Homo sapiens: one gene and its partners. The protein of the gene in region 1 interacts with the protein of each later gene in a pairwise test. Each region holds a gene or a part of one and is shown in the gene's direction. Other genes may lie near its edges. The genes, in order: SPANXN2, COIL, ZNF2, ZNF84 and BEND7.

Region 1 (5,937 bases):
GTTTGTGCCGCAAAGGAAGAAGACACTAGGGGTGGACAGACAAAAGTTGTAGGTTATGGTGGCAAGTCATGAGAAGGTGGGGGTTGAATTCTGCACAAACCCTTTGTTTTAACTTTTATGTTTTTCCAAGTTGAATACCTGCCAGCAAGGGTAGCCCCTCTGAAGGCCTGATAGGAAATGTTGGTAGTGGAGGAGGTGAAGGCTGTTTGGTTTTGGAGAGAGAGCAGGAAATGGGTTTTTGTAACTAATAGCCATTGCGGTCCTGACAGCGCAGAAGGATACAGGTTGCAGTTGAGGGAATTGTTTGTGGATATTTTCCAGGGAGCGCCCTTGACTTGGATACATGGAGAGCGGCTCCGGCAGAAAGGGGAGGGGTTGATAAGAGGTATTTTCTGGAATCCGACTGGTAACATGTTTAGTTAAGAGGCTATGAGGTGAAGGAGGGTGACAGCCCTGTGTGTGACGGTGTGGGTGGATTTGATGGATTGGTGGGGGGGGAAAGGTGATTAGCCGAGCAAGATTATAAGCAGGTTTTGCGAATGAATTGGTCAATTAGGTGAAATGCAGGTTTATTTTGGACAGGGTTCATGTGGCCAGGTTAACAGGAAGGGCTGTGAACTACTGGATTTGTGTGGACAAACAAATTTAACAGTTGGAAGGAAGAGGGGAGTGTGACTGATTTAAGAGGCAGTGAGGCTGATGAAGGGGGCTCATCTGTTAGACGTTCGGGGTGGGGACTTAGAATATCCCACAGATAGAGAGGACAAAAGGAGAAAGAGGAGATTTGAGTAGGAGTGAAATTTTGGAAGGTGCCCTGAAGTCATATCTCCTTGATTAGTGTGACAAATTGGCCTGGACTATTCAGGGTCATGGGGAAGGGAAACCAGGAAAGATCTGAAATAAAGTAGGAGACAAAAGATTGGAAACTGGAGACAGAGAGTGTTATGGACTAAGGTGTTCTGGATTGGCAACTTCTGGAATTCTTGTTAAGTACAGTGAGGTTGGTCTTGTCAGGGAAGGAGAATAATTTGGGGGTGAACAAATTTCTAGATGTGGATCTGGTGCTCTTTTTAGTTTGAAATGTGCATTCAGTGTGCAAAGGATGTTAGCTTTGGCGCTGTGGGAGTAGTTAGCATCACCTGGTGAGAATTCCTCCACTTAGGTTGGAGAGCGGGGGAGGAGGAGTCTGTGATTCAGACCCAGCCCGCTGGTTGTAGGGACAGGGAGGAGTGTTTTGAGGATGGACTTTTAGGCTGGGTCAAGTAAGCATTTGCGTACTGTCTTATTAGATGTTGGGTGAGGTGTAACGCCGGCCAAGTATTCCATATAGAATGGGGGGAAAATACAGGGAGATTCTGGAGGATAAATGGAGCATTTGTACATGAATTTAAATGGGCTTAGGCTGAGCGCTTTTAGGAAATGACTCATAATCGCATGAGGAACAATGGGAGAAGTGAAGTCCAGGCCATTTTAACCTTTAAGGAGAGTTTGGTTAGTTGTTGTTTTTTATAAAATTTTTCCTGAAGATTCGGAGTGGTAAGGAATATGGAAAGCCCATTTAATGTTTAGAGCCTTTACCAGCTGTTGGTTAAACTGAAACAAATTGGCCCATTGTCTGACTGGATGCAAGAGGGGAGTTTAAACCGGTGGATAATATGGGTGGAGAGAATAGAAGCGATGGTGTGTGCCTTTTTGGTGGTGGTAGGAAAAGCTTTTATTCATCCAGAGAATGTATCTACTATTGTTAGAATGTATAGGAATCACTTTCTGGGGAGCATGTGAGTGATGTTGATTTGCTAGTCCTGCCCTAGTAAGTGTCCTCAGGTCTGGTGTGTGGGAAAGGAGATGGTTTGATAGCTTCCTGAGGGGAAGTTTGAGTGCAAAGGGAACATGCCTTAGTAATATCTCTGAGATGGGCAACCATGGTGGAAGAATGTCTAGAAGTTTTTAAAAGCTGGAGTAGGGGCAGTAACCGGCATGGAAATGGTTGTGCACATATGAAAGTACAGAAGGTTTTTTAAACTTGGGCAAGACACTTTATCAGTGAGATCGAACTATTTTTTCCTGAATGGCACCAGCCTGGGCAAGTGGGTTTTTTTCCTGCTGGGTATATACAGGGTGTATGCTGGGAAAAAAAATGAGCAATAACGATGGGGTTTTAAGGGCTGCCTGCCAGGCTGCCGAATTTGTTGAAAGGTTTTTCTCGGTTTTGGCATCTGTAGCCTTTCGGTGTCCCTTGCAATGGATAATGGTGGCCTTTGGTGGTGGTTTATCCACCCCCAACAGCTTATGTGTAAGTTTGCCATTTCTTATGGGGGTTCCTTTTGTAGTTAGGAAACCCTGTTCCTGCCAGATGAAGGCATGAGACTGTAGGACATGGTATGCATATTTGGAATGGGTGTAAATGTTGACCCTCTTTCCCTTTGCTAGGGTGAGGGCCCTGGTTAGGGCAACTAGCTTTGCCTGTTGAGAGGTAGCATGGGGTGTGAGAGCATTCGATTCTAGGAGTTTATCTTCAGCACTGATGGAATAGCCAGCTGCTGGACATGGCTGCCTAAAAGAGGTTCCATTAACTAACCGTGTATGTGTTCCCTGCAAAGGGGCATCTGAAATGTGTTGGAAGGGGGAGGAGAGGGAGTCTAAGAGGTCCAGACAGGAGTGAGAGAGCTTAGAGTCGGAAGTGTTTACAGGGAGAAGGGTGGCTGGGTAGAGAATTTTATGTCTCTGGAAGGTGATTAGAGGGTTACCTATGAATAAGGCATGCACCTGCTGTAAGCAGGATGGTGGGAGGGATAGAAGGGATTGGTGGTTTATGAGGTCCTGTAGATAATGGGAAGATGCAATAGTAATGTGTTGGTAGAGAGGGAGTTTCCGTGCATCTAAGGCCAGCAATGTGGCCATACCCAAGATTTTTAGTCAGAGTGACCAGCCTCGGATGACAGAGTCCAGTTGTTTTGAGAGGCGTGCAATGGCTTCTGGGGCGTTGCCATATGTTTGGCAGAGTAGTCCAAGGGCAAGGCGCTGGTCAGAATGTACATAGAAAGTAACAGGCTTGGTGAGGTTTGGCAGTCCCAGTGCCAGGGCCATTAAAAGGGCATTTTTAAGTTTTTAAGTTGGAGTTGATGGGGCAAGCTGGGTTCAGGGGTTTTAGGATGGGCCCATGTGAGGCTACGTATAGTGGCTTGGCCAGCAAGTCAAAGTTAGGAATTCACAGCCAGAAGTATCCCACAAGGCCCAAGAAGGAGGGGAGGTCCTTTTTTTTTATGTGGGGAAGGGGCATGTCCCAAATTGGCTCCTTTCATTGGGTTGGGATGGCTCGAGAATTAGGGGTTAGAACAAACCCAAGGTAAGTAACTTTGATTTGGGTACCTGAGATTTTGTGGGTTAGGCCCAATATACTTGATTATGAAGGAAGTTTAAAACCTGAGTGGTGTGTTGAATGGACAGGTTAAGAAAGGGGCTACAGAGAAGGAGGTCATTGACATACTGGAGGAGGGTACTAGGAGCAAGGGGAAGTTCAGCTAGGTCCTTGATGAGGGCCTGTCTGAACAGGTGGGGCCTATCCCGGAACCCCTCTAAGAGTACAGTCTAGGTGTAAGTCCATGTGTAAGTCCTGTAAGAGTACAGGACATGTGAGTATTAGGATTTGACCAAGTCAAAGCAAAAAGACTTTGGTAAGCCAGATTTAAGGGAATAGTGAAATAGTTGTCTTTTAGTTCAATACAAAGGAGTGTGTGGTAGATGGGGCAATACGGTAGAGTAGAGTATATTGGTTGAGGACCACTAGATGGATTGGTACCACGGCCTGGTTAACGACTTGGAGATCCTAGACAAAGGGGTAAGTCCCGTCTGTCTTTTGGAAAGCCAGAATAGGGGTGTTGTGGGGAGAGTTAACAGGCTTGAGAATATGAGCTTGTAAAAGTTTACAGATAATAGGTTTGAGACCCCCTAAGCAAGGCTGGATTAAGGGGATATTGAGACTGATGAAGGAAAATGGAGGGGTTTTGAAGGGTTATTTTAACTGGGATGTGATGTGTGGCTATTGTGGGTTTAGAAACATTCCAAGCTTTAGAATTAACAGAAGGTAACAGGGTGGATAATGAGGATGAGTGGGGGGAGAGGGAAGCGTTTGGGTGTCAGAGTAAAATAAAAGGGGTAGAATTGTAGGAGCCACATTGCATGGAGTTCTGGAATTTACTTAATATGTCCCATCCCAAGATAGGGGTAGGGGACTGAGGGATAACCAGGAAAGAGTGGGTGAAGGGGGCTGCTGAATAGGTTGTATAATAAAGGACCAGTCTGTGCCTAGAGGGGATTTTATTGATTCTCACAATAGAGATCGAAGAACAGAAAAAGGGTCTAGAATATTCTGGTCAAACTGAGTAACTAGTTGTCCTATTGAGTATCCAATAGGAAAGACATGGGCTTACTAGAGACTGACAGAATTACCCTGGGTTCCGAGGTGGTGATGGCAGTAGGGGCGGTGGACTCCAGGCCCCACCTGTCTTCAGGTACAGGTGGTGAAGCAGGATGAAGAGTTTCAGTGAGCACAGTCTGACTTCCAGTGTTGCTTGATACCACAGATGGGGCAAGATTTCCAGAGTGTCCTGGGATTAGGCTAGGCTTTTGCCCAGTGTCCCTGTTAGACGAACTTGTAACAGGCTCCTGGAGTTGACTGTTGCCAAGTTGAGGAATTCTGTAGGCCTTGGGAACCCTGTTGAGTGGCAGCTACCAGCATTTGGTATTTAGCCTGGTCCTTCTTTAGGTTTGGATTTTTTAGTTCTTCCTCTCTAATCTTATAGATCTTGAAGGCCACTTTGATTAAGTCTCTTTGGAAGGTTTGAGGGCCACCCTCCAGTTTTTTAAGTTTTTTTCAAATGTCTGGGTCTGACTGGGAGATAAAGTATAAATGGAGGTAGTTTTTGCCCTTATTGGTATTAGGGCTTAAGGTGGCATATTTAGTTGTGACTTTTGAAAGGCAGGAGAGGAAACGAGCAGGGACAGCTTTATTTATGCCAGCTAGAAGGCATGATATCATATGGCCTGATTTCTGTCTGTCTACTGAAGTTGCCTGATAATTCCAACTGGGGCCAGTTCTGGGGACAGCTAGGGTCCCTATTGGATTATGAGCAGCATCTTGTTGGTGGAGGGTGTTCTCATGGACCTGGGCACCCATAAAGATGTGTTCCCTGTCCTCCAGGGTGAGGGTAGAGGAGAGGATGACATATATGTCATGCCAGGTAAGGTCATAAGATTTAGGGAAGTACAAGAATTCCTTGTGGAAGGAGGTTGGATCCATTGAAAAGGAGTCAAGTCTCCTTTCAATATGGGAAAACTCAGCTAGAGAGAAGGGAACTTGAATTCAGATTATGCCTTTAGCCCTCGCAACCTCCTGCAAGGGAAGGACTTTGGAAGGCCTTTGGGCATGTGCCTGGTTCCTAGCGAAAGGGGGTTGGGTGTGAGACCTGGTTTGAGGTGGAGAAGGAAGGGGGATGGAGGGCGACAGTAAGGGGGTGGAGGAGCCGGATCCGAAGGAGAAGGTGGAGGGAATGGGAGAGGGCAGGAGGCTGAAGAACGGGTGTGTTGGCCAGGTTGAAATTCAGAGGAAGAAGACTTGTCCGGAGGAAGAGGCATTTTGGGGGGTTTCTCCTTGAGGAGGAAGATTTGAAAAGGTGAACAAGATTGGCAGAGAGAGAGAGAGAGAGAGAGAGAGAGAGAGAGAGTGAGGCATGAAAGGAGATAAGCAAAGCACTTCAGATTATTTACCATTGCATTGAAGAAAGTTTTTTAGATTATGTTGAATTTGGAAGTTGAATGTTTTGTTTTTTGGAAGAGGGGAGTGAATACTCTGGATGGGAGTGACTACCCCTGAGGAAAGTGAGTACCCTGGAAGGGAGTGAGTACCCCAGGGGTGAGCGAGTACTCCAGAGAGAAGTG
Region 2 (6,288 bases), on another chromosome or scaffold:
GAGTATCCAGGAGCAATTGTAGTGTGAATTGCTGAAATGTGGTTGAGTTGCCACAGTAAGATGATGGTATCTGATCATTCCAGTTTGGATTCATATCTTGGACTGATTTATTCAGACTTTTTTTTTTCTTTTTTAAATAAAGAGACTGGGTTTCCCATGCCCAGGCTGGAGTGCAGTGGTACGATCATAGCTTGCTGTAACCTTGACTTCCTGGGCACAGGCAATCCTCCCACCTCAGCCTCCCGAGTAGTTGGGACTTCAGGCCAGGCAACCACGCCTGGCTAATTTTTGTATTTGTTGTAGAGACAGGGTTTCGCCATGTTGCCCAGGCTGGTCTCGAATCCCTGGGCTCAAGCTGTCCTCTCACCTCAGCCCCCCAAAGCACTGGGATTACAGGCGTAAGCCACTGTGCCAGCCTTCCTTCCCCCACCCCCTTTAAGCTTCAGCTACAGTGAATTAATTCCAGAGTTGTGAACCAGGCTATTTTCTCTTGCTGCCCTTTGTCGTTGAATATTCCTTACCCTCAAGCATGTCAGATTCCGTAAGATTTCTTCAGAACATCAGGGAATTTAATTTGGAACAGTAACTGCATCTTTAAATCAGGATATTATGATTTATTGAATAATGTTCAACTGTTTCAAATGACAATTTGAAATAATCCAAATTTCAAAGAGTTTTTTTTCCCCCTTTTTATTGACTGTGAAATAGGTCTCTATTCTCTCTGCAATTCAAGGATTATTTAAATGTTACAATTCTAAGGATTGTGTCCCATCCTATTAAGTTTACTTTCTGAACTGTCTCTTGCCTAATGAGTTAATAACTTGTGCTAACTATAATTATACTTTAATGAATCATGTGGGCATTACATTCTTCATAATGAAGTTAACAATGACAAAAACAAACCATGAAAACTGTTATAAGTAATAATTACAACACGATGACAGGCAAATCTTTCCTAAATGCTTCAAATGCACAGCTGCATGTGGCAAAAAATACCTCTCTAGTGGCTTCAGTGGCAAATGGGCAGACCGTAGAAAAAGATGAATCTGGAAAGTTCGTCTTTGTTTTTGTTGTTTTATGTCCACAATCATTGTTTTTCCCTGGCAAATTCACTTTTCTTCAGAGCTACGGAAGAACACATAGTCTCTATTCTCAAAGTACCCAATATTGTTGGACTGGGACCCAAATAATGAGTCTCATGCTTTTGTATATTACCTTCTGTGATACAGACAATTAGACTGAATAGTTAGACCAAGTTATATGGTAAGTGCAGAAGCTGGTTGAGAAAAGGGAGATCAGCATGGAACAAAATGGTTAGGGAATTGAGCAGTACCTTGAAGAATGGGTGGGAAATGTTGGATGATCAAAGCACAGTTATAGAGACAAAAGCTGGCTGGACTTGGTAAAAAGATGAGTCTGACCAGCCAAAGCATTCTGTTGGGATCATTGGCAGTACTGAGAAGGCTAATGAGGAAAAGTGGAACTAGGTTGTGGGAATCCTGAGAAACAGCCTTTGAGGCTTTGGATGCACCACACACTTGTGTTCCACTGCTGTTTCCTCATAGCCCATTCTCTTAAGCCCCAGGAATCTGGCTTCATCTGCCCCCAGGTTTCTGACAGCGAGTTCCTAAAGGTGGTCTCTAACTGTCCTGGGAGGAGGAGGAGGTGCTTCTATTGGCTTGGAGCCCCCTGTGTTAGTTTGCTGGGGCTGCTATAACAAAATACCACAGACTGTATGGCTTAAAAAATGGAAATTTATTTCTTACTCTTCTGGAGACTACAAGTCCAAGATCAGGGTGTTGGCAGATTTGGTTTTTTTATTTTATTTTAATTAATTAATTAATTTATTTATTTTTCTTGAGACAGAGTCTCACTCTGTTGCCCAGGCTGGAGTGCAGTGGCACGATCTTGGCTCACTGCAACATCTGCCTCCCAGGTTCAAGCGATTCTCCTGCCTCAGCCTCCCGAGTAGCTAGGATTACAGGCACCCGCCACCATGCCAGGCTAATTTTTTTGTATTTTTAGTAGAGATGGGGTTTCACCATGTTGGCCAGGCTGGTCTCGAACTTGTGACCTCAAGTGATTTGCCCTCCTCAGCTTCCCAAAGTGCTGGGATTACAGGAGTGAGCAACTGTGTCTGGCGGTTTTTAATTTTTTTTAATTAATTTTTAAATTTTTTTTAATCGTGCAGCCCTCAGAATTACAGTAGATTCAGAGAGACTCCCTTATTTTTTGAGACAGGGTCTCACTCCATTGCCCAGGCTGGAGTGCAGTGGCGCAACCTTGGCTTATACAGCCTCGAACTCCTGAGCTCAAGGGCTCCTCCTGCCTCAGCCTTTTGAGTAGCTGGGACTACAGGTGCAGTTTTTTATTTTTAGTAGAGAGGTCTCACTAAGTTGCCCAGGCTGGTCTCAAACTCCTGGGCTCAAGTAGTCCTCCCGCCTTGGCCTCCCAAAGTGTTGGGACTACAAGCCTGAGCCACTGCCCCCGGCCTGAGAAACTCCCTTTTGAAGAATCAATTCTGTAAGGAAACAGTGCATTCTGTCTTCCCTGACCCTTTTAACTCTGGCAATTAATACTTGATGAAGGCTGGGCGCCATGTCTCATGCCTATAATCCAGCACTTTGGGAGGCTGAGGCAGGCAGATTGCCTGAGCTCAGGAGTTCGAGACCAGCCTCGACAACATGGTGAAACCCCATGTCTACAGAAAAATACAACAAAATTAGCTGGGCATGGTGGCACATGCCTGTAGTCCCAGCTGCTTGAGGGGCTGAGGTGGGAGGATCATTTAAGCCTGGGAAGTAAAGGCTTCGGTGAGTTGAGATGGTGCCACTGCGCTGCAGCCTGGGCGACAGAGTGAGACCCTACCTCAAAAAACAAACAAACAAACGAACAAAAAAACACATTGATTAAATGTTAGAGATGGGCCAGGCATGTTGGCTTATGCCTGTGATACCAACACTTTGGGAGGCCGAGGTGGGAGGATCACTTGAGTCCAGGAGTTTGTGAGCAGCCTGGGCAACACAGGGAGACCCTTATTCTACCAAAAAAACCCCAAAAAACAAACAAAAAAAATTAGCTAGGCTCAGTGATGGATGCCTGTAGTCCCAGCTAGTTGGGAGGCTTAGGTGAGAGGATCACTTGAGCCTCAGAAGTTGAGGCTGCAGTGAGCCATGATCGTGTCACTCCACTCCAGACTGGGCAGCAGAGCAAGACCGCATCTCAAACAAAACAAAATATTAGAGACGAGTTCTCATTTCATATTGCTGTAGTTAGTGGCTCCTTGGATAGTCCAAGATAAAAAGTTTCCTACTACTTTTATCATATACTTTTTCCCACACCTCACTCTCCAGAAGTATCCTTGGTTAAGTTTGGGGTATGGGGTATATCTTAGAGCCAGATTTCTATACATGTGCAACCATATGTACTTATACTTTTAAACTACAAATATCATAACATACTGTTCTGCACCTTGCTTTTTTACCTATCATGGGCTATCTCAGTATATAAAGTGTGTGATGTATGTCATTCTTTTCTGTTTGCTACATAGTGCTTTAGTGAATATTCTTGTATTTTTTTTGTACTTGGAAAATTATTCAGTTGGATTTATTCTTAGAAGAAATACTCATTGGTCTAAGAGAAGGTACATATAAAAATTGATAAGTACTGTCAAATTAGCTTCCAGAAAAGTTGTACAGACTTGTACAACTTTTAAAAATTCACCAACTTACCCATGATAGGACTAACAACATTCATTGTACTAATAAAAATTAGAGCTAACATTTGGATATCACTTGTTCTGAGTCAGGCATGCTCTCTCTGCATAATAAGTCACTGAGTACTGTAATTATTGTCATTATCCCCATTTTTATAGATGAGAAAGGCTGAGGTAATGATTTTAAAAAAAATTACAGTGGCAGAAATAGCATTTGAACCCAGGCATTCACGTTGGCCTTGGCAGGCAATGGGTAGGGAGCATCAGGTTGGACAGATGGGCATGTCAGTGTTTCTGCATAACAGAATCCTAGACAGTAAATTGTAGATTTTAAGGGTGGACTTAGATTTTGATAATACCACTCAGTTTGCCTTGCAAAGAGTTAGAATGAAAAGTGGGGATAGCTGGGCATGGTGGCTCACGCCTGTAATGCTAACACTTTTGGGAGGCCGAGGCGGGCGAATCAGCTGAGGTCAGTTCGAGACCAGCCTGACCAACGTGGCAAAACCCCATCTCTACTAAAAATACAAAAAGTTAGCCAGGCGTGGTGGCAGGCACCTGGAATCCCAGCTACTTGGGAGGCTGAGGCAGGAGAATCGCTTGAACCCAAGGGGAGGAGGTTGCAGAGAGCCCAGATCATGCCACTGCAGTCCAGCCTGGGCGACAGAGCAAAATTCCATCTCGAAAAAAGAAAAGTGGGGATCTGTTTTTTGGAATCAACTCTTTCGTCACTAGTGACCTAGGTAATTCACTTCTACTTGTGAAAGGACAAATGCATGCACTTTTGTTTGTAAAAGGATAGCTCTATTCTTTGTCTGTGATCCAGGTAAAGAAATAGAGAATATTGCCAGGGAAGGTGCACCTGACAGGAATGGTAACTAAGCAGACCCAGGAGAACCATTTCTTTTTCTCTGGATGGTATTTTGCCTCTCAATCTTAATATTTTCTTTTTTTTTTTCTTCCCAGATGAGGGCTCACTGTGTTGCCCAGGCTAGTTTTGAACTCCTGGGTTCAAGTGATCTTCCCTCTGCCTCCTGAGTAGCTGGGATTACAGGCATGTGCCACCACACCAGTTTATAATCTTAATATTTTAAAAACTGAAATTATTCTCTTGGGGAACAGTAGGTAGTGGGGCTGCAGGAATCACAGGTCATACCTTCAAGCCAAATAGCTGTAGATGCATGGTCTTTTTTTTTTTATTTTTTGGAGACAGAGTCTCTATCTGTCGCCAGGCTGGAGTGCGGTGGCGTGATCTTGGCTTACTGCACCCTCTGCCTCCTGGGTTCAAGCGATTCTTCTGCCTCAGCTTCCCGAGTAGCTGGGACTACAGGCGCATGCCACCATGCCCAGCTAATTTTTGTATTTTTAGTAGAGACTGGGTTTCACCATGTTGGCCAGGCTGGTCTCGATCTCTTGACCTTGTGATCTGCCCACCTCAGCCTCCCAAAGTGCTGAGATTATTACAGGCATGAGCCACCGCGCCCGGCCAATGCATGGTCTTAAGAATGGATGAGACGATGCTAAGAGCTGTTTTGGAAGGCGTGAGGGTGTTGCCAGCTTCCAGGAAAGGAAGGGGTTCTCATCAACTGGATGTTACATGTGCTGTTTTCCAGGGCCTTAATAAACCACAGTGACTGAACAGAGACTTGCAACCATTTTCAACATTTGACAGAAAGTTTGGTCCTATTTGGTCATCTCAGAATTGAAGCTTGGATCATTGCTACAAGTGAAAACAAATTGATCAGAAATGTCAAGAAAAAAATCTGATATTGTAGCGCTTCCATGGTAGTTCTTAGATTCACAGGATGCCAAACTGGCTTTTGCCAGATTAAGAATTATTTCCTTGCTATTAGATGCCAAGCTGGGAACAGAGGGGAATGTGTTTTTATAATTTAAAATCCCTGGTCACTCAGCATTTTATTTGTCTCTTTCTCCTACTCCTGATATCAGTAACTCTTATTTTATCTTGATTTGTTTGTCTGTATAGTTAGTTTTCTGACAAATAATTGAGGATTTTTTTCAACTACCGCATTGAGGTAAATCCACAGGATTACTATGCCTTAAAAAATTTAAAGAATGCTTGTCACATATGCTCCTATCATTCACCAGTTGTTCTTTATTTTCAAATATGATTGTCTACATCTTTCCCTGGCCACTGAAAAAACTTGATGAAATATATAGCTGAATGTAAATGCCTTGTAAGTATAATGTGTGTTTTCAGCAGTGGCGCAATTACAGCTCACTGCAGCCTGGACCTCCTGGGCTCTAGTGATCCTCCTACCTCAGGTAGCTGGGCCACAGGCATGCACCAACCATACTTACCTAATGTTTGTATTTTTTTTTTTTTTTTTTTTTGAGACGGAGTCTTGCTCTGTTGCCCAGGCTGGAGTACAGTGGTGTGACCTCGGCTCACTGCAAGCTCCACCTCCCAGGTTCACGCCATTCTCCTGCCTCAGCCTCCCGAGTAGCTGGGACTACAGGCGCCCGCCACCACGCCTGGCTAATTTTTTGTATTTTTAGTAGAGACGGGGTTTCACTGTGTTAGCCAGGATGGTCTCGATCTCCTGACCTTG
Region 3 (6,288 bases), on another chromosome or scaffold:
TGAAAATGGAGCCCTGAATGTGGATGGACTTTCTGAGGGATGGCAAAAACGAAGAAAGTACAAAGACTGAGCTATGGGCAGCATCCATGTTTCCAGGGCAAAAGTGGGGAAAAAGAGTCACAGAAAGACAGCAATTTTAGTGGTTGGAAGAAAAGCTAGTGCAGTATCATAGCAGTTACAGTAACCACTTGAATAAGCAGAAGCTTGTCCGAACAGTGAAAAGCTACAGAGAAATAGATAATATGGCCGGGCACAGTGGCTCACGCCTGTAAGTCCCAGCACTTTGGGAGTCTGAGGCGGGCGGATCACGAGGTCAGGAGATCGAGACCATCCTGGCTAACACGGTGAAACCCCGTCTCTACTAAAAAAATACAAAAAATTAGCCGGGCGTGGTGGCGGGCGCCTGTAGTCCCGGCTACTCGGGAGGCTGAGGCAGGAGAATGGCATGAACCCGGCAGGCGGAGCTTGCAGTGAGCCAAGATTGCGCCACTGCACTCCAGCCTGGGTGACAGAGCGAGACTCAGTCTCAAAAAAAAAAAAAAAAAAAAAGAAAGAAATAGAGATAATAGGATCAGAAATGCATTGGTAGGCCAGGTGCGGTAGCTCATGCCTGTAATCCCAGCACTTTGGGAAGCCGAGGTGGGCAGATCACTTGACGTCAGGAGTTCAAGACCAGCCTGGCCAACATGGTGAAACCCCGTCTCTACAAAAATACAAAAATTAGCAGGGCATGATGGCGGGTGCCTGTAATCCCAGCTACTTGGGAGGCTGAGGTGGGAGAATCACTTGAGCCCGAGAGGTGGAGGTTGCAGTGAGCCGAGATGATGCCATTGCTCTTCAGCCTGGGCGACAAGAGTGAAATTCCGTCTCAAAAAAAAAAAAAAAAAGTAGTTTTCAAGCATGCCATTTCAGGTGTGTGAGGGGCAAAAGCTGAAAAACAGGGACTGGAGAAGAGTAAGTGGTAACAGTGTGGAGTCAGTAGGTTATTATTCTCCAAAAAGTTTGATCATGAAAGGACAACCTAAATGAGAACTGCTTTGCTAGAAGGAGGTCATGGGATTCAGTGAAAATAGTTTCAGGTAGAGGAGGCTTGTATGTCTTTGAAGATGTTGAAAGAAAGTGCTACTGGGGTGGAAAATGCTGGAAGAAAAAAAAAAAAAGACTGGGGTCTGGGCGCTGTGGCTCATGCCTGTAATCCCAGCACTGTGGGAGGCTGAGGCAGGCAGATCATGAGGTCAAGAGATTGAAACCATCCTGGCCAAAATGGTGAAACTCTGTCTCTACTAAAAATACAAAAATTAGCTGGGCATGGTGGCCCGCGCCTGTAGTCCCAGCTACTCAGGAGGCTGAGGCAGGAGAATCGCTTGAACCTGGGAGGCAGAGGTTGCAGTGAGCCAAGATCGTGCCATTGCACTCCAGCCTGGGCGACAGAGCCAGACTCCGTCTCAAAAAAAAAAAAAAAAAATACTGGGAAGTGCAGGGACAAATTCTGAGAGGAAGCAATGTGAAAAACAGTGGAACCCAGGGTATAGGACACAAAGGTAAAGTCCTGGAGACAGACATTTCTGTCTTGTTGACCTCACACATCTCGCTGCCCTAGCACATAACAGCTACTTGGTACATATTCATCAAATAGTGGGATGAGTGGATGGATTGCATTGGGCAGTAGAAAGGAAGAGAACTTTATTTGTTGAATGAACTGTATGATAAATGCTTTATATTAATGGTCTCACCATTTATAACTATGCTGTGAGTTAGGTGGTAAACAACTGTTGGCTTAAGTAACTCATCCAAGGCTTCATGGTTAATAATTCCATGCTTGTGGAATGCTTTCTACCATATAACCCTGCTTCCCTTGAAACTCATTCCTGGGAATCTTTGGTGTGGTAGAAGACAAAAGTTATGCGGAAATTGAATGGTACCCATGGAGGTTTGGAATAGCCATGTAGCTAAGATGGGAGCAGTAAAAGCTTTCTGGACGATGTCAAGGGCTCGTTTGAAGATATAGACTGAATTTAGGGGACATTTTCTCCAGTGATACTCTGAGATGCAGGGATAGGAAAAGAGAACACAGAAGTGGAGGTGGTTCTTGGCTAGCAGTAACTCCCTGTGAGTTTGGTGGATTTGAGAAGTCTTCAGTGTCAGTGAGCTTACTGAAGTGACTGCTGGTGGAGTCTAAACCTAATGGGGAGAGAAGTCTACGGATGAGGAGCACTTTGGGAGTATCCACTGGTTGTTTAATAACTGGGGAGCTTATATGTTCACCACCATTTGTAATTCGTTCAGTGCTCAGTTTAATTAAAGTTGTAATCTAATAAACAAAACTTTGAAAATTGTCTTTAAACATTTAACACTGAGCAGTTTCGACTGCAGTTTTGGATATGGTTTGATTTGTTCAAAAAGCTCCAGTGCTTTAGACAAACATATACAAATACTTTGACTCCAAAGTTATTACTGCACTTACATTTAAACCTACTCTAAAATAGCAGCAACTCGGCCAGGCGCAGTGGCTCATGCCTATAATCTCAGCACTTTGGGATGCCAAGGTGGGGAGATCACCTGAGGTCAGGAGTTCAAGACCCGCCCGGCCAAGATGGTGAAACCCTCTACAAAAATACAAAAATTAGCCAGGCATGGTGGCAGGCACCTATAATCCCAGCTACTCAGGAGGCTGAGGCAGGAGAATCGCTTGAACCGGGGAGGCAGAGGTTGCAGTGAGCCGAGATAATGTCATTGCACTCCAGCCCGGGAGACAGAGCGAGACCCTGTCTCAAAAAAAACAAACAAAAAAATGCAACAACTCAGTGTAATTAATATTTTCAGTGTGTCTACCTTCCTAGAATTATAACATTACTTATTACATTACATTAGCTTATACTAACTTTACTTAGCACATTATTCTAAATGTGTTACATGTGTTACCCTATTTAAGCATCAAGATAACTGCAAGAGATATTACTTCCGTTATTCCAGTTTTGCAAACAGGCAGACTGAGACAGGTTAAGAAACTTTCCTGAGGTAGCACCGGTAGGAAGAGGCAGAGGTGGATTTTGATTTCAGGCAGTCTGTCTCCAGAGCCTGTACTCCCAATGACTACACTTTCCTGTATCTCTAAATGCTAATTTTGACTTATTTCTAGGGCCTAAGGGTAATATTTGGATACCCTCTTGTGATGGACGAATCTTAACAGACCAAAAAGGAAAAGAATACTTTTAGACAATACACGTTGCATGCTCTGGTTATCAATTGACATGTCTTTGTTTCTGTTTGTGTTTATATCTGCCTCCTCCCAGCAAGATTCAAACCCTAATCTCTCCCCGTTAGGTTGGGGGTGTTTTTTGTTTATTAGTTTTTGCTTATACTTAGCTAAACTTGTTTTTCCAATAAGTTTTTGCTTTTCACGTAGTTTTTGCAAACTGGTATTCACCCTCAAGGTAATATTCTTTTAAAATTTTGCTTGGCCAGTGTGAACCCATTGTTAAATAACCCTGAGCTGTCTGGCAACTTTTAACTCTAAGCTATAATGATTTATTTTCATGAAAAGATAGCATAGGTAACAGACCAATAGACTAGAACAGAAAATCCCCGAATATCCAAGAATATGATAGACCTGTTATAGAATAGAGTTAAATGCTACCAAACAGACCAGTAAATATCTATTGATCTGGTCTTTTGACATTTTTGAAAACTTAGTTGTTCCTTATTTTTGTGTTTGATTCATAAGTCTAGCTGTAGGGAGACATATCCTAAGGGAGAAAGGATGAAGTCTGCACAGTTACTATGCTTCTTTGGAAGCAGAGGTTGGTTCATTGTTAGTAGAGCCCATTTCTCTTTCTACTTGATACTTACGTGTGGCCCCAGTACTGATTAGTCCTCCCTGTTTGGGGTATGTAGTTCTGTATCTAGAATTACCTGGTTTATTCCCATTCCAAATTTCTTTTTACATACTTATATGAGTAGATACAAGTATCTATCCTGAGGGTACATCTATAGTCATACAATTAATAGAAAAAAGTACCTTTTTATGTAAGTAAAGTTTTAAACATTGCCTTCCTTGTATTACAACTTTTATGGCATATTTTATATTAACTTTTCTATTTTGAATATGAAACTCATAGTCCTTCAAAGTTCAAATTATTTTATTTAGCGCTAGTGATTTTTATTATTTATCTGGCCAGTGGGAGCCAGAGTCATCTGAGTTTTCTTATTCAAAGATGTGGGGTCGGCTCAAATTCTGAATGTCCAAAACTGTACTCATTGGTTTTCCCTTCAGTCCTTCTCTGTACCTTATCTCCATGAACGGCATCGTTATCCATGCCGCATTGGTAACCCGGGCGTCATCTTTGCCCTCATCACCTTCAGCCTCTTCTTCCAGCCAGTGTATTGTCTGTTTTTCTTCTTCTTCTTTTTTTTTTTTTTCCCCGACTCAGAGTCTTGCTCTGTCACCCAGGCTAGAGTGCAGTGGTGTGATCTCGGCTCACTGCAACCTTTGCCTCCCGGGTTTGAGCGATTCTCCTGCCTCAGCCTCCCAAGTAGCTGGGATTACAGGTGCCTGCCACGGTGCCTGGCTAATTTTTGTATTTTTAGTAGAAACAGGGTTTCACCATCTTGGCCAGGCTGGTCTTGAACTCCTGACCTCGTGATCCACCCGCCTCGGCCTCCCAAAGTGCTGAGATTACAGGCGTGAGCCACCGCACCCAGCCTGTCTGTTCTTAATAGCTTGACAGCAGTTTCCAACATTTCTGCTTTCACAGCTTTCATTCAGTTTGTCATCTTTCTTATTTAATTATAACACTCTCCTCAATGGTCTACTCACCTCCATTCTTTCCTTCCTGTAATCCCATCACACCACAGCCACTCAGTGTGGCGTGGCCACCTGTGTTGGGGTCCCCAGGATCACCCCAGGTTCAGGGATTCACTAGAAGGACTCAAGACTCGACCCATAGTTGTACTTCTGGCTAAGAGTATGATGATGACCCTGCAAGGATAGGCAGCCAGATCATAAGGGGAAAAGACAAGCCGGGTAGAGGAATCCGTATATAGGCTTGCTTCTATTCTCTTTCTCCCATGTGGGTGTCACATGGAGCACACTCCTTCCCCCAGCAACGAAAATGCAGCAACAAGTGTGATGTCTCTGCTCAAGGAAGCTCATTGGAGACTCAGAGCCCATGTTTTTTATTGAGGGCTAAGTCACATAGGCACCGTCTGCCTAACACATACCAAAATTCCAGACCCTCCAATAGGAGAGCACATGTTCACCATAAACGACATTGTTTGCACAAATAGTTTAGGCATAGTAGACCACCGTTATCTCTTAGGGAACTGGGGAACCCTCTCAAAATCGAAGTTTCCAGCTGCCAGCGAAGGGCCAGCATGCAAGCAGAACTTTCTAGGAATAGCAGTCTCAGGTCTGCTGTGACTTTTCTGCACACCACCCTTCTTTCCTTCCTGTTATTTTTTTCTGTACACCAAAATAAGGACTTACTCTTGTTGAAAAAAATATATGAAGAATGGTAAGAAAATAAAAATAACTTATAACTCACCACTCAAATTTCATTTACATTTTATTATGTGTTTTTCCTTTTTCTATACATAATGTGCATGTACAAATATGTAATTTTAAAAGTGTGCATTCTTCAAGTGTTTTGAATTTCTTTGTGGTTTTTTTTTTTTTTTTTAGATGGAGTCTCACTCTGTCACCCAGGCTGGAGTGCAGTGGCGTGAGCTCAGCTCACTGCAACCTCTGCCTTCTGGGTTCAAGCAATTCTCCTGCCTCAGCCTCCAGGGTAGCTGGCACTACAGCCACGTGCCATCATGCCTGGCTAATTTTTGTATTTTTAGTAGAGACGGGATTTCACCATGTTGGCCAAGCTGGTCTTGAACTCCTAACCTCAAGTGATCCACACGCCTCGGTCTCCCAAAGTGCTGGGATTACAGGTGTGAGCCACTGCACCTGGCCGTTCTTTGTGGTTTTTTTTCAGTTGTTGATTTTTTTTTTTTTTGTAAGAAACAAAGCATTACAGATAAAGCTGAAGTATCCTGGGTATCCTTCCCCAGTCTTATTTCCCTTTCTTCTCAGATATGTACACATTTGCTGCTTATTGTCCCATGTGTTAATAGATTTTTGTAGGTATTATTTACCTGTTTTTAAATTTTATGTAAATATTATACAGTAAGTCATTCTATAACTTATTTTTTGCCCAGTAATTATGTTTTTGTAATTTATCTCTGTTAACATGAGATAATGTATAATATTCATATATAATGTATAATACACATATTCATATA
Region 4 (6,288 bases), on another chromosome or scaffold:
CAGTTGAGGTGGCTTCTTTATTTTTTATTTTTTTTTGAGATGGAGTCTCACTCTGTCACCCAGGCTGGAGTGCAATGGCACAATCTCAGCTCACTGCAACCTCTGCCTCTAGGGTTCAAGCGATTCTCCTGAGTAGCTGGGACTACAGGCGCACGCTCCCACGCCTGGCTAATTTTTTGTATTTTAGCAGAGACGGGGTTTCACTGTGTTGCCCAGGCTGGTCGCGAACTCCTGAGCTCAGGCAATCCGCCTGCCTTAGCCCCCCAAAGTGTGTGAGCCACTTACAGGTGTGAGCCACTACGCCTGGCCAACATTTTTTAAATGATCATTGCATAGATGGATTATTTCATTGGGAGTTGCAAAATGGTGACAGGTTACTTTGATCATTTCTTCTTGATCAGCTAGAACACTGCTTTCCAGCATGACAGAATCTATCAAGGCACAGGTTTAATCTTTTTGTCCCAGACCTGCCGTTAGCCATTTCTACAGTAAATGGTATCTGAAATTTTGTTATTTGAAAGAATTTTCTTGCCAAAACATGGAAATACGCAATATTTTGGCATATTGACTTTGTATACGGGAACTTATTTTTTTAATTTTTTTATTTTTTTTGAGGCAGAGTCTCACTCTGTTGCCCAGGCTGGAGTGCAGTGGCACAGTGTTGGCTCACTGCAACCTCTGCCTCCCGGGTTCGAGCAGTTCTCCTGCCTCAGCCTCCTAAGTACCTGGGATTACAGGTATGCCACCACACCCAGCTAATTCTTGTATTTTTTTTTTTTTTTCCAGTAGAGATGGGGTTTCACCATATTGGTTAGGCTTGTCTTGAACTCCTGACCTTGTGATCCACCCGCCTCGGCCTCCCAATTACAGGTGTGAGCCACCACGCCTGGCCAGGAATTTCTTAAGCTTACTTATTAGTTCTAATGATTTTTCTTTAGATTTGATTAGATTTTTCATGTTAACAAAAACATCAGCAATAACTTTTTTTTTCTTTTTGTTTTAAGAGACATGGTCTCACTCTGTCACCCAGGCTAGAGTGCAGTGGCACAATCATAGCTCACTGCAGCCTTGAACTCCTGGAATCAAACATGCCTCCCACCTCAGCCTCCCAAGTAGATGGGACTACAGGCACCTACTACTAAGTACAGCTAGTTTAAATTTTTTTTTTTTTTTTTGGTAGTGACAGGTTCTCACTATATTGCCCACGCTGGTCTGGAACTCCTGGCCTCAAACAATTCTCCTGCCTCACCCTATCAAATAGTTGAAATTATAGGCATGAGCCAGCACACCTGGCCAGATCATTTTAAGTAAATGTTTGGAAGAATCACCACTAAAACTACATAGATCTTGCATTTTTTTTGAGGGAAAGTTTTAAAATTGTGGGATCAGTTTCTTTAGCAGTTACAGGATTAATTCAGATTTTGTTTCTTCTTGTTACTTTGGGTTCATTGTTTTTCAAAGAATATAGCTATTTGGCCAGGTGTGGTGGCTCACACCTGTAATCCCAGCACTTTGGGAGGCCGAGTAGGGTAGATCACGAGGTTAAGAGATTGAGACCATCCTGGCCAACATGGTGAAAGCCCATCTCTATAATAATACAAAAAATTAGCCGGGCGTGGTGGCAGGCGCCTGTTATCCTAGCTACTTGGGAGGCTGAGGCAGGAGAATCGCTTGAACCTGGGAGGTGGAGGTTGCAGTGAGCCGAGATTGCGCCACTGCACTCCAGCCTGGGCAACAGAGCAAGACTCCATCTCAAAAAAAAAAAGAATATAGCTATCTCGTCTTAAGTTGTCAAGTATGTTGGCATAAGTTTGTAATATCTTTTTAACAGCTTTATTGAAGTATGACCTCAATAAGATCCACCATTTTAATGTATAATTCATTGATTTTTAAGTAAACTTATGCTGTATAACCATCATCACAATCTAGTTTTAGAAGATTTTCCTCACCCCAAAACAATCTTTGTGACATTTTTGGTCAATTCCTCTTCCCACCCCAGCCTAAGACAATCATTAATTTGCTTACTCTCAGCTGGGCACGGTGGCTCACACCTGTAATCCCAGCACTTTGGGAGGCCGAGGTGGGTGGATCACCTGACGTCAGGAGTTCGAGAGCAGCCTGGCCAACATGGTGAAACCCCATCTCTACTAAAAATACAAAAATTAGCTGGGCGTAGTGGCAGGTGCCTGTAATCCCAGGTACTCAGGAGGTTGAGGCAGGAGAATTGCTTGAACCTGAGAGGCGGAGGTTGCAGTGAGCTGAGATTGGGCCACTGCACTTCAGCCTGGGTGACAGAACAAGACTGTGTCTCAAAAACAAACAAATAGAAATTAAGTGGGTGTGGTGGCATGCACCTGTAGTCCCCATTTCTCAGAAAGCTGAAGTGGGAGGATCACCTGAGCCCAGGAGGCAGAGGTTACAGCGAGCTATAATTGTGCCACTGCACTGCAGCCTGGGTGACAGAGCAAAACTCTGTCTCAAAAAAGAAAGAAAGAAATTTGCAGTTATCTGAATTGCTGTTCCCTTTAAGTGATGTGATTTTTTTTCTTTCTGGCCATTTATGATGTGTCTGGGTATGGATTTCCTTATGTTTATTGCCTGGCATTCACTGAACTTCTTGAATTTTTTGGTTTATATATTTTGCCAGTTTTACAGAATATTCAGCTATCATTTCTTGAGACTTTATTTTCACCATGCTCTTTCTTTTCTCTTTCTGGGACTCCTATGACACTCACATTAGAGTCTTTGGTATTATTTGATAGTGTCATGAGCTCTGTTCATTTTTAAGTCATTTTCTGTCTGTTCAAAACAGTTTCTGTTGATCTGTCTTCAAATTCTCTGACTTCTCTTAAAGTATATTGTGTGCTGTGAGGGTCAAATTTATTTTTTGATTTTCTGGTGGCATTCTAGATTTTTAAAAGATGTGTGCTTGTGTTTTCTTTTTATCTTAGGAGACTTTGAGACAGAAATCCATCTTGATCCAAAATCTAGTCACCTTTCTAAAATCTGTTTGGTTCTATCATTCCCTTTCTTGTAAGGTCTTTGATGGCTAACTTGGCAACAAGAAAGTGTCCTAGCTAAGCTAACCACATTCTGCCCCAGCCCCACTGTGGCCTTTAATCTCATCACTATCCCATTCCCTATTATCCTGTCAGACTGATGTTTTTGTATCTCTTCAGTCCTCACAGTTTTTTTTTTTTTTTTTTTTTTTTTTTTTTTTTTTTAAATCAGAGCTGCTGCCTCCCAGAATGTCTTTGCATCCTCTTTTTTTTGTGGAAAACAACTAATTTTCTAAAACCCATTTCAATTTTACCTTTTCCGTAGAGCCTAACTCTACACTCAAATAGAGTGAAGTGCTGCCTGCTTTTTATCCACACTGTGCTCTCCTTTATTTCTTAGTTACTATAAGTTTATTTTATTTGTAAGTGCATATTTGCAGCCCTCTGTAAGACAATGCGACTTTTGAGAGTATTATTTTATTATTTTCCTTCTTGGTATTTTAGTGTATTGGTTTGTTTTTGAGATGGGGTCTCACTCTGTCACTCAAGCTGCAGTGCAGTGGTGCAATCACAGCTCACTGACGCCTCGACCTCCCAGGGTCAAACAGTCTTCCCATCTCAGCCTCCCAAGTAACTGGGACTACTGGCATATGTCACCATACCCAGCTAATATTTATATATATTTTATATTATATATATATGATATTTATATTATATATATTTATATATTATTTTTAATATAATATTTATATTATATATTATATTATTTTTAATATAATATTTATATTATATATTATATTATGTATTATATTATTTATATATATATATAATACAGGTCTCACTGTATTACTTAGTTTGGTCTCAAACTTTTGGGCACAAGTGATCCTCCCGCATTGGCCTCCAAAGTGCTGGGATTATAGGTGTGAGCCACCTTGCCTATCCTATTTTCTTTCTTTTGCTACTACCTCTTCCAGTGCCAAATTTGAGGTTCAGTAAAGATTTTATTGGTGGTTCAGGGGGTTTAAAGTCACCTATTCCAGTTTGCGTGTCTTCTGTGAAAGTTGTCAGAATCAAAATGGAGTCACTAGTGTTAATTTTTTTAACCCCTACAGGTAGAGCTTGGGAAGCCTGTGAAAAAAGTGTTCTCACACTTGCATGCCTGATAAAAATTATCACAAAAGACTGCAAAAGCCACAGCCTCGTACAAAGGCCATTGAAGCCTTACACAAAAAATACTTTTATTGGGACATCTGCCCAGCAGCTGCCTGTCCAGCTTTGGACTGGTGTCACCCTTGTTATTGATCTTTGTAGCCAAGGATAACTGTTTCAAAACAATTATGTGATGCACCTCATTTTTTTCCTTTAAAAACTTTTGTCTTTCTTCCCATCTAAGTACTAACCAGGCCCGACCCTGCTTAGCTTCCGAGAACGGACGAGACTGGGCGCGTTGAGGGTGGTATGACCGTACTGGCTGTAGACACCTTCGTCTTTCTTTACCTCCCTGGATACACATGTAGTTTACTATGGCACCTGTCTTCTCATGGCAGTACTCTGTTCCCAAACAAACATCATTTTCTTCTGGAGAGGCTCTCTTTAATCTTTAGGTTAACAGTTGTATAAATGGAAGGATGGAAGAATGCACAATGACATTTTATCACACAAAATATGCAAAGGTAGAGACATAGTAGGCATTTTGTATAACTTGTTATGAGAATGAAGTGCTAAAGCTCCAATATTTTTTTCTCACATCATACGGTGTTAACTGCTTCAGATTTACCAGGATTGTGCTCTTACAGGAGTCATTCTCATTTGACGATTTATCTGTGGACTTCACCCAAAAGGAGTGGCAGCTACTGGATCCCTCTCAGAAGAATTTATACAAGGATGTGATGTTGGAGAACTATAGCAGCCTAGTGTCACTGGGTAATAAAAGCTTTCTTGAGGACCTTGGACTATGCCCAATGCATTGCCTTTTATTTTTAGTTGCTGGGAAGTTTCAGAAGCCTATAGCTAGGCTTCTGAAATTTTTAATGATTTTAGACCTGAAACTTAGATCACAGTTGCTTGGACTATGACACCAAGAAAGTATTTGGGTCTCACCTTTCAATAATGAAGTTGTAAGTTTGTCATGCAGCCTCTGAAACTTAAGTAGTAATAGTTTGAGCAGTAGTGATAGCACCTAATGCATATAACTTACTATATGCCACATCTTATACCAAGTGCTTTACGTATATCAACTCATTTAGTCATCAGAGCAATCCTATGTGGCAAGTACAGTCATTATCCATTTTTCCTGATGAGAAGATCGAGGCCAAGAGAGGTTAAGTAACTTTCCCAAGAACTAACAGCTAGTAAATTAAAGAGCCTGGATGTAAACCCAGGCTTACTGGCTCCAGAGCCTCTGAAGTGTTCAGTGGCTTTGTACTAGACCCTATTAGCCACCAAGGGAGACCGTTACTGTAACTTTGAGAATTACTTACTCTGTTGGGGTACAGCTTCACCAGGCCAACTTTGATGTGAAACCTTGCTCAACTTTAGAGGCCCTAAACCCCAAGCAGTTGGGCCCAAGGCCTTTGTGATTTTTCCCTTAACAGGGTATGAAGTTATGAAACCAGATGTCATCTTCAAATTGGAGCAAGGAGAAGAGCCGTGGGTAGGAGATGGAGAAATTCCAAGTTCAGATTCTCCAGGTGAGTGTATGAGAACCAGGCAGATGGGAGAGAGCAGAAGCCCCATGTCATCTGGTCAGTGACGGGTGGGCTAGTCAGTGATGGGTGGGCTGGTCAGTGATGGGTTGGCTGGTCAGTGACGGGTGGGCTGGTCATTGATGGGTTGGCTGGTCAGTGATGGGTTGGCATCTTTGAAATGTGCTTTAAGGATCTCTTTTCAAAATCTCTAAACCTTTGGTGGTGCCTCAGAACAATTGACATTAGCTACTCAAGTAAGTCACATTTAGACGTAGCTTCTTTGTAGCTTAAAATGAAATGTGTCCTGCTTATCTTGGCCATGACGTTATTCTCTGTAACATCTGGGACCTTGACTTCTTGTTTGGTATTCTGTCCTCTCACATGTTTGATCCCATTCAGTCCCTCCTTCCCCTGTGGTCAAAGACACCTCCGTTTGTACATTGAAGCATCTTGATTTTGTCTTCAGTTTGGGTTCTCTGATGCCCAAACGCCCCAATCTGTTCAGTCTCATTATATTAGAAAATGGAGCCGTCATTTCTCCCAATTTATCCTTATCCTCCCTTTTAAATTAAGTTCCTTTGTGTTTTTTTCTATAGATTAGA
Region 5 (6,288 bases), on another chromosome or scaffold:
TACAGTTTGTCTCCCCATTTTGTCAAATCCTGTTCCACATCATTCTCCTCTAGGGCACAGAAGTGGGGCCCCAGCAAATTGAAACTAGAACCACTTGTATTTCCTTCCATGATGCCGATAGGAACCGAGAGGTCTGGATCAATAATATTACCTGCTCTCATGCTTTTTGTCTGATTTTCAGTCTAAATGATAATACAAACAGTGTCTCATAGAGATTGCACAATTTCCACCTTATTTGTCATATCTGGCTCCATTCCTGGAATGAGGTAGAGATTCTGACTCCACAAGCTAATTGGCTACCACTTAAGGAAGCCTGCACTGCCTCTAGAAAAAAAGAAGTGCCCCACACAGATTTGAAAGGCCGTTATGCAAATCCAAATAGAAATTCATTTGGGGCTGTCGTCACATGGAATAATTTTTATTCTATAGCTCCAGTGATTCCTTTCCTGGTGTGCATTTTTATCATTGCCATCAGATGATTTTCTCAGAGCTGAAATCACAATATATCGTGTTAGATCTCAGAGTAAAGATGTCACTGCTGTTAAATGTTTATTGGACTTGCTCAATCTTTTCCAAATTTACCAACTTGATTGTCACCGGGGAAGAAAGACTGTGAGCTTGTTGTTGCAGATAGATGTTATAATTAAATTTGAGTAACACAACAGTGCCTTCCTCCTTGACTCTCAGCCCCTATTCATGCAGCTAGCGTGTTCTGATTTATATATAATCATCTATATATTTTTTTGGTTATATATGTTCTGTTCTTACTAAAGCACATAATTGCATAGGCCTGTTTTTTCAAAGGGAGGATAGCTGAATTACAAAAGGAAGGTCAGTTTATACCCAAAACTGATCTTGTTATAACTAAATGAAAAGCAATTATACATGTAAAGAAAGTTGCCAAAATATAAAATGAACTAGAACTCGAAGATTTAAGAAATTAGCTCATATCGATGCATATGGTATGTTTGGACTATTAATAGCAAAGAGACGAATAGCCCAGACATTAACGCGACTCATGTCCTTGGCATTGTTACTTACTAGCTGTGTTACCTGGAGTGAGTTTCCCAACCTCTGTCTCACTTTCCTTATGTGTTAAGATGGGCAGAGCAACAGACCCACCTTGTAGAGTGTCCTAAGGGTTCAGCGACACACTGCATGTCAAGTGCCCCGTGAGCATTTAATACATGGTGATTATCATTGTTATTATTATTGAAGGATTTTTAAAATCCTAGGCAGTGAGAGAACTACCATGAAGACCATCTGTCCCCAACTCACTCAAACCAATTAGAAGAAAATAATGTCTTCTAAATATAAACATAACATATGTTCATTATTTTTCATATATAAAATAATTTCTAAAAGCCATAGAACAAAATTTAAAATACCTAAAGCCTTTCATCCAGAGGGAAACACAGTTAACATTTCAGTATGTGCCATATTTTTTCTATAAACCTGTTTCCAGAATCTTAATCACACCATTTATCCCATGGTTTGAATATTTTTATGTTGTTAAATATTCATCTACAACATCTTTTTTTTTTTTTTTTTTTGAGATGGAGTCTCGCTCTGTCGCCCAGGCTGGAGTGCAGTGGCGCGATCTCGGCTCACCAAGCTCCGCCTCCCGGGTTCACACCATTCTCCTGCCTCAGCCTCCCGAGTAGCTGGGACTACAGGCGCCTGCCACCTCTCTTGGCTAATTTTCTGTATTTTTAGTAGAGACGGGGTTTTACTGTGTTAGCCAGGATGGTCTCGATCTCCTGACCTCGTGATCCACCCGCCTCGGCCTCCCAAATACAACATCATTTTTAGCAGTTGCTAATCTAATCCAACCTAGGTTGGTCTTGCATATTTCATCCCTTCTCAGTGATTTCTCTTTGTGGTGGATCTAGCAGGTCAGCAGACAAGGGGTCTTTCATTAATGCCAGTGAGCGTCCATCTGAGGACAAGATGTTGGAGGATGAAGGAGACAGGGGAGCCATACAATATTTCTAGCCGTAGCTAAGCCCTGATTATGTTTAAAGCAACAATAAAAACAAGTACGTAGCACTAGTTTAGGCTGCTTCTGACTCAGTGTTACAACATGGTGCCAAGGCTGACCTCATTCAACAGCCTCACAAGGGCTGCCCACGCACATTATGCAGTCAGCAGGGGCCTGCCTGTGGGGACCACAGGCCCTGAGCCATGGAGGCCACCACCGAAACTATCCCAGGGGCCATAATGTGATGTTTTCCCATCCCCACATGTTACGGGAAACTAACAAGCCCATCCCTTGTCAAGAGACACACGTGCACCTTTTTTTTCGCATGTAACAGAAGGTTTTTTGTGACTGAAGGATCTACCTTTGGAAAACTCCCAAGGAGATGGATACATTTATCAGACACGAGCGAAGGTTTGCATTTTAAAACTTAGAAATGGAGAATCTTTTGAAGCAACGCCTATTCCTTCTTCATGACCACGTTAATGCCAGAGTTAGATTGGCAGTTCTAGGATCTGAATCAGCCATCTCCAAAGAAAGGTTCATTCTCAAGATTTCCTAAGCTGCCCCCCAGGAGTGGTTCCGGCGATGCCAAGTGCAAATTCTACAGCAGGAATTCATTGACACATCCCCGCGATGACCCTATTTAAACAATTCACCCCACATGCTGGTTCGATATTCAAGCCTATGTAAATAAGTGAAAATAAACAGAAATCATCAGTGATCAATAGAATGAGGTTCATAAGATTTTAAAAAGTTTTAATATCATGAGGTCAGGAGAGCGAGACCATCCTGGCTAACACAGTGAAACCCCGCCTCTACTAAAAATACAAAAAATTAGCCAGGCGTGGTGGCGGGCGCCTGTAGTCCCAGCTACTCGGGAGGCTGAGGCAGGAGAATGGCGTGAACCCGGGAGGCGGAGCTTGTAGTGAGCCGAGATCGCGCCACTGCACTCCAGCCTGGGCGACAGAGCGAGACTCCGTCTCAAAAAAAAAAAAAAAAAAAAAAAAAGTTTTAATACGGGAAAGTTGATTTTATATCACCATCATCAAAAAATATTCAAATAATGATATTAACATCTGTAATATGAACCAACGGTAGCTGAAAACAGAAAAGAATGGTGAAAACAGTTATGTATACTGGAGTTTTTAAAATTACATCACTATTTTCTGTAAAATGAATGTGCTCCCTGGAACTAATGAGATTTGTGTCTTATGTTTGTAACCAGCAGAGATCGCGGACAGTGATGAAAGACTGGACGGCATTGCTCTACCACCAACAGGTAAATAAAACGCATTTACATTTTCATCACCTCCTGGAAAATACAGCCCACAAAACTATTTGCATTGAAAACGATTTTAACATTAGACATGCAGACACTTGAGCAAACTGCTTCTGCAGTGGACCAGGCCCCGTCATTGGAGCTTCTCAAGGCCCCGTACTCAGAGATGTTTTTCATACTGAATAGAAAAACGTTTTTCTCACACTCTTATTTTCATAAAAATCTCAGAAGAGCAAATCCTAAGAACTAAGTATCATAACATTTTGCCTCCCCAAACCTTTGGACATTACAAAATATTTTTAACGTGAAATGAGATTTCACCTTAAAACGGGGACCACTAATTTTGTGTGATCAAATTCATGGCTAGGCTGTCCTCTCCCACCTCCTCCAAACGGCCTTGGAGCCTTGAGCAGTCAATCAGTGGACACCCAGTGAATACTATGTTTTAACTGAGCGATTTGAACAAGGCCAGCCATCCGGCGTGAGTGGCACATTCCTAATACCAGGACCAGATCAGCTGAAGATACCCTTCCATGGAAGCATTTGCTGCACGCTGTTGTGTTAAGCCATAGACATAATTCCAACTTCATGTTATTTGACTCTCAAGTAATGCTTCTGACCCTGGCTTCCTACCTGTGTATGGGTTCATATCTGAGAGCCAGAGGGGCAGGTGTCTGATCAATGAGCCTTGTGGAAAACAATGTATCCCCTCCATTGGTCACAGGACTCTACTGACTTCCCTCCAAAGGATATCTGAAGATTCTCTGCCCACAAAACCCAGGTACCCCCAAAAACCCTCTTACTGAAAAGGTTCAACCGAATGTTTTTTCCTCTAGTTTTGGGGTGGTCTGTGTTGATTAAATTCAGCAAATATTAGTGGAGTCTCTAGGTTGTGTAGGAACTTGACTAGGCCATGTATTCATTGACAGCACATATCCCAAAATGGCAAGGAAAGCCACATTCGCAGGCATAGGATGGGCCTGTGCTAGTGAACTTCAGAGCTTCAGAGCAACAGGAAAATTCAGCCGTGTAAGAGACACATTGCTTTCTCTGCCACTGAGTAGCTAAGCAACAGATCAATGGACAGATAAATCAAATGAGCTACATAGTGCAAAAAGACCTGCCTACATCAAGTTCTTCCCATACAGAGTCATTATATAAAAGAGATTTCTGTTCTTCTTTGGCTGTGTTTTCACATTTGTGAATTAAGAGAATTGAAATACGTGATCTCTGTTGTTCCTTCCCAATTTGTCATTCTCTGAATATCAGGGCACGCATATCAGCCTCATTCTTATCACCTGGGCCCAATCCCAGCCGATCCATGAAATCCTAATCGTAATAGACCTAGCCTTCAGAAGGCCCTTCAGGGGAGCACCATGCCTTTCTAGCTGTGCTTCCCAAGTGCCCTCCCACCCTGGCCATCTGCACTGCCTGTCCTCCTGTGTCATGTGACACAGTGAGCTTTTATTATTTGAAAGCCACTCCCCTTGAAGTTTATATTCACCCCCAAGTGGTGAGTACGGAATGCCTTTGTATTTTCCTATCTGAAGTTGGAGATACGTTTCCAGTGAGAAAACTGAGGTCAGAGGGTGCTAGAAGAGCCTCATGGAACTGAAAAAAATGTCAAGGAATCTGAGAATGAGAAGGAACTTGAGAGATCCTCTAGTCCAATCCCTTCTTTTTATCCAGTCCTTTTATTTTACAGGAAAAAAAGCCTGAGGCCCAGAAACATTAAGTGGCTTTCCCACGGCCTCACAGCTGGTTGACGGCCTGGCCGGAACCCAGGTCCCTCGACTCCCAGCCATGATACCATATAGCTTTCTCATACCTAAGCCAAAGCCAGCTTTTCTCTGCATGTTTCTTAAAGATCCTAAGAGATGATGGATGTGCTAATCCCTTTAGGAGTCCTCTTCACTGTCTCAGTCTTCACAATTAAAATGTTCGTCGTCAGTCGGCCCGGTTCACTGCAGCTGAAACTCGTTTCTTCCAGTCTTTTCTCAAACTTTACCCAAGGCTGTGAGGTCATAATGAAGAAAATAGTATAACACACTTGCAGATCTTTTCATTAAACTATTGATAGATATTTGATACAAATCACTAAGCAGCATGATAAATAAAAACGTTTATCATTTAGAAAAGAGGAAAAGAGGCCGGGCGCGGTGGCTCACACCTGTAATCCCAGCACTTTGGGAGGCCGAGGCGGGCGGATCACAAGGTCAGGAGATCGAGACCATCCTGGCTAACACGGTGAAACCCCCGTCTCTACTAAAAAATATATAAAAAATTAGCCAGGCATGGTGGCGGGCGCCTGTAGTCCCAGCTACTCAGGAGGCTGAGGCAGGAGAATGGCGTGAACCTGGGAGGCGGAGCTTGCAGTGAGCCGAGATCGCGCCACTACACTCCAGCTTGGGTGACAGAGCGAGACTCCGTCTCAAAAAAAAGAAGGAAAAGAAGTCTCAGATTGATGCTCAAATTTTGCAGTAATAATATTAAGTAATCTTGATATTCACCTGGATAGCATGTCTCTTGATTGCCTCCAAAGTAAAATCCCCATTCTGGTTGGCTTCTTTGAATGCAGTGCTGCTCCTAACACCCCTCCTCACATGTGCCCTTTAAGGACTCCACCTTTCTCGCACATGTGGTTTCATCCTTGAGCTTGAGCCTCACTGGTCAGAACCACAGGATCGACCAAGGGCTCTGATACAGACTCTCATTATCCCATTTATCTGAGCTAGCAACAGTTAGTTCTTTTTAAAGATTCAACAATGCTTTTATTACTTTTTTAAGGTCTTTTTTCCTCCTTCCAAAGTTGTGTATTTGGGGGAAGGGCAGGGAAAGGGATGTAAATGCTTAAGTGTTTCTATGAACCAGAAGTGACTAGGGTAGGGTTACAGGCAGGTCAAATGACATTTGTTTGGATGCATTACATTTAAGCAACCTTCTGTTCATCAGGCTTTAGCAGAAATGGATTCACCTTCTGTAGTGCATCTATTTTAGTTTCCCTTAACCCTATTCACTAAGCCTTTTT

What was found.
Region 2: the proteins of SPANXN2 (region 1) and COIL interact in binary tests that used the Homo sapiens proteins (3 or more experiments, as listed by UniProt).
Region 3: the proteins of SPANXN2 (region 1) and ZNF2 interact in binary tests that used the Homo sapiens proteins (3 or more experiments, as listed by UniProt).
Region 4: the proteins of SPANXN2 (region 1) and ZNF84 interact in binary tests that used the Homo sapiens proteins (3 or more experiments, as listed by UniProt).
Region 5: the proteins of SPANXN2 (region 1) and BEND7 interact in binary tests that used the Homo sapiens proteins (3 or more experiments, as listed by UniProt).

The regions. Positions count from the first base shown.
Region 1 is NC_000023.11:143,713,679-143,719,615, reverse strand, and holds part of SPANXN2 (sperm protein associated with the nucleus on the X chromosome N2), read left to right. Parts: intron 1-5,937.
Region 2 is NC_000017.11:56,953,193-56,959,480, reverse strand, and holds part of COIL (coilin), read left to right. Parts: intron 1-6,288. UniProt on the Homo sapiens protein: Component of nuclear coiled bodies, also known as Cajal bodies or CBs, which are involved in the modification and assembly of nucleoplasmic snRNPs.
Region 3 is NC_000002.12:95,166,978-95,173,265, forward strand, and holds part of ZNF2 (zinc finger protein 2), read left to right. Parts: intron 1-6,288. UniProt on the Homo sapiens protein: May be involved in transcriptional regulation.
Region 4 is NC_000012.12:133,043,160-133,049,447, forward strand, and holds part of ZNF84 (zinc finger protein 84), read left to right. Parts: intron 1-4,795; coding exon 4,796-4,922; intron 4,923-5,593; coding exon 5,594-5,689; intron 5,690-6,288. UniProt on the Homo sapiens protein: May be involved in transcriptional regulation.
Region 5 is NC_000010.11:13,444,238-13,450,525, reverse strand, and holds part of BEND7 (BEN domain-containing protein 7), read left to right. Parts: intron 1-3,206; coding exon of another isoform or gene 3,207-3,209; coding exon 3,210-3,260; exon of another isoform or gene 3,261-3,984; coding exon of another isoform or gene 3,985-3,995; exon of another isoform or gene 3,996-4,439; intron 4,440-4,965; coding exon of another isoform or gene 4,966-4,979; exon of another isoform or gene 4,980-6,288.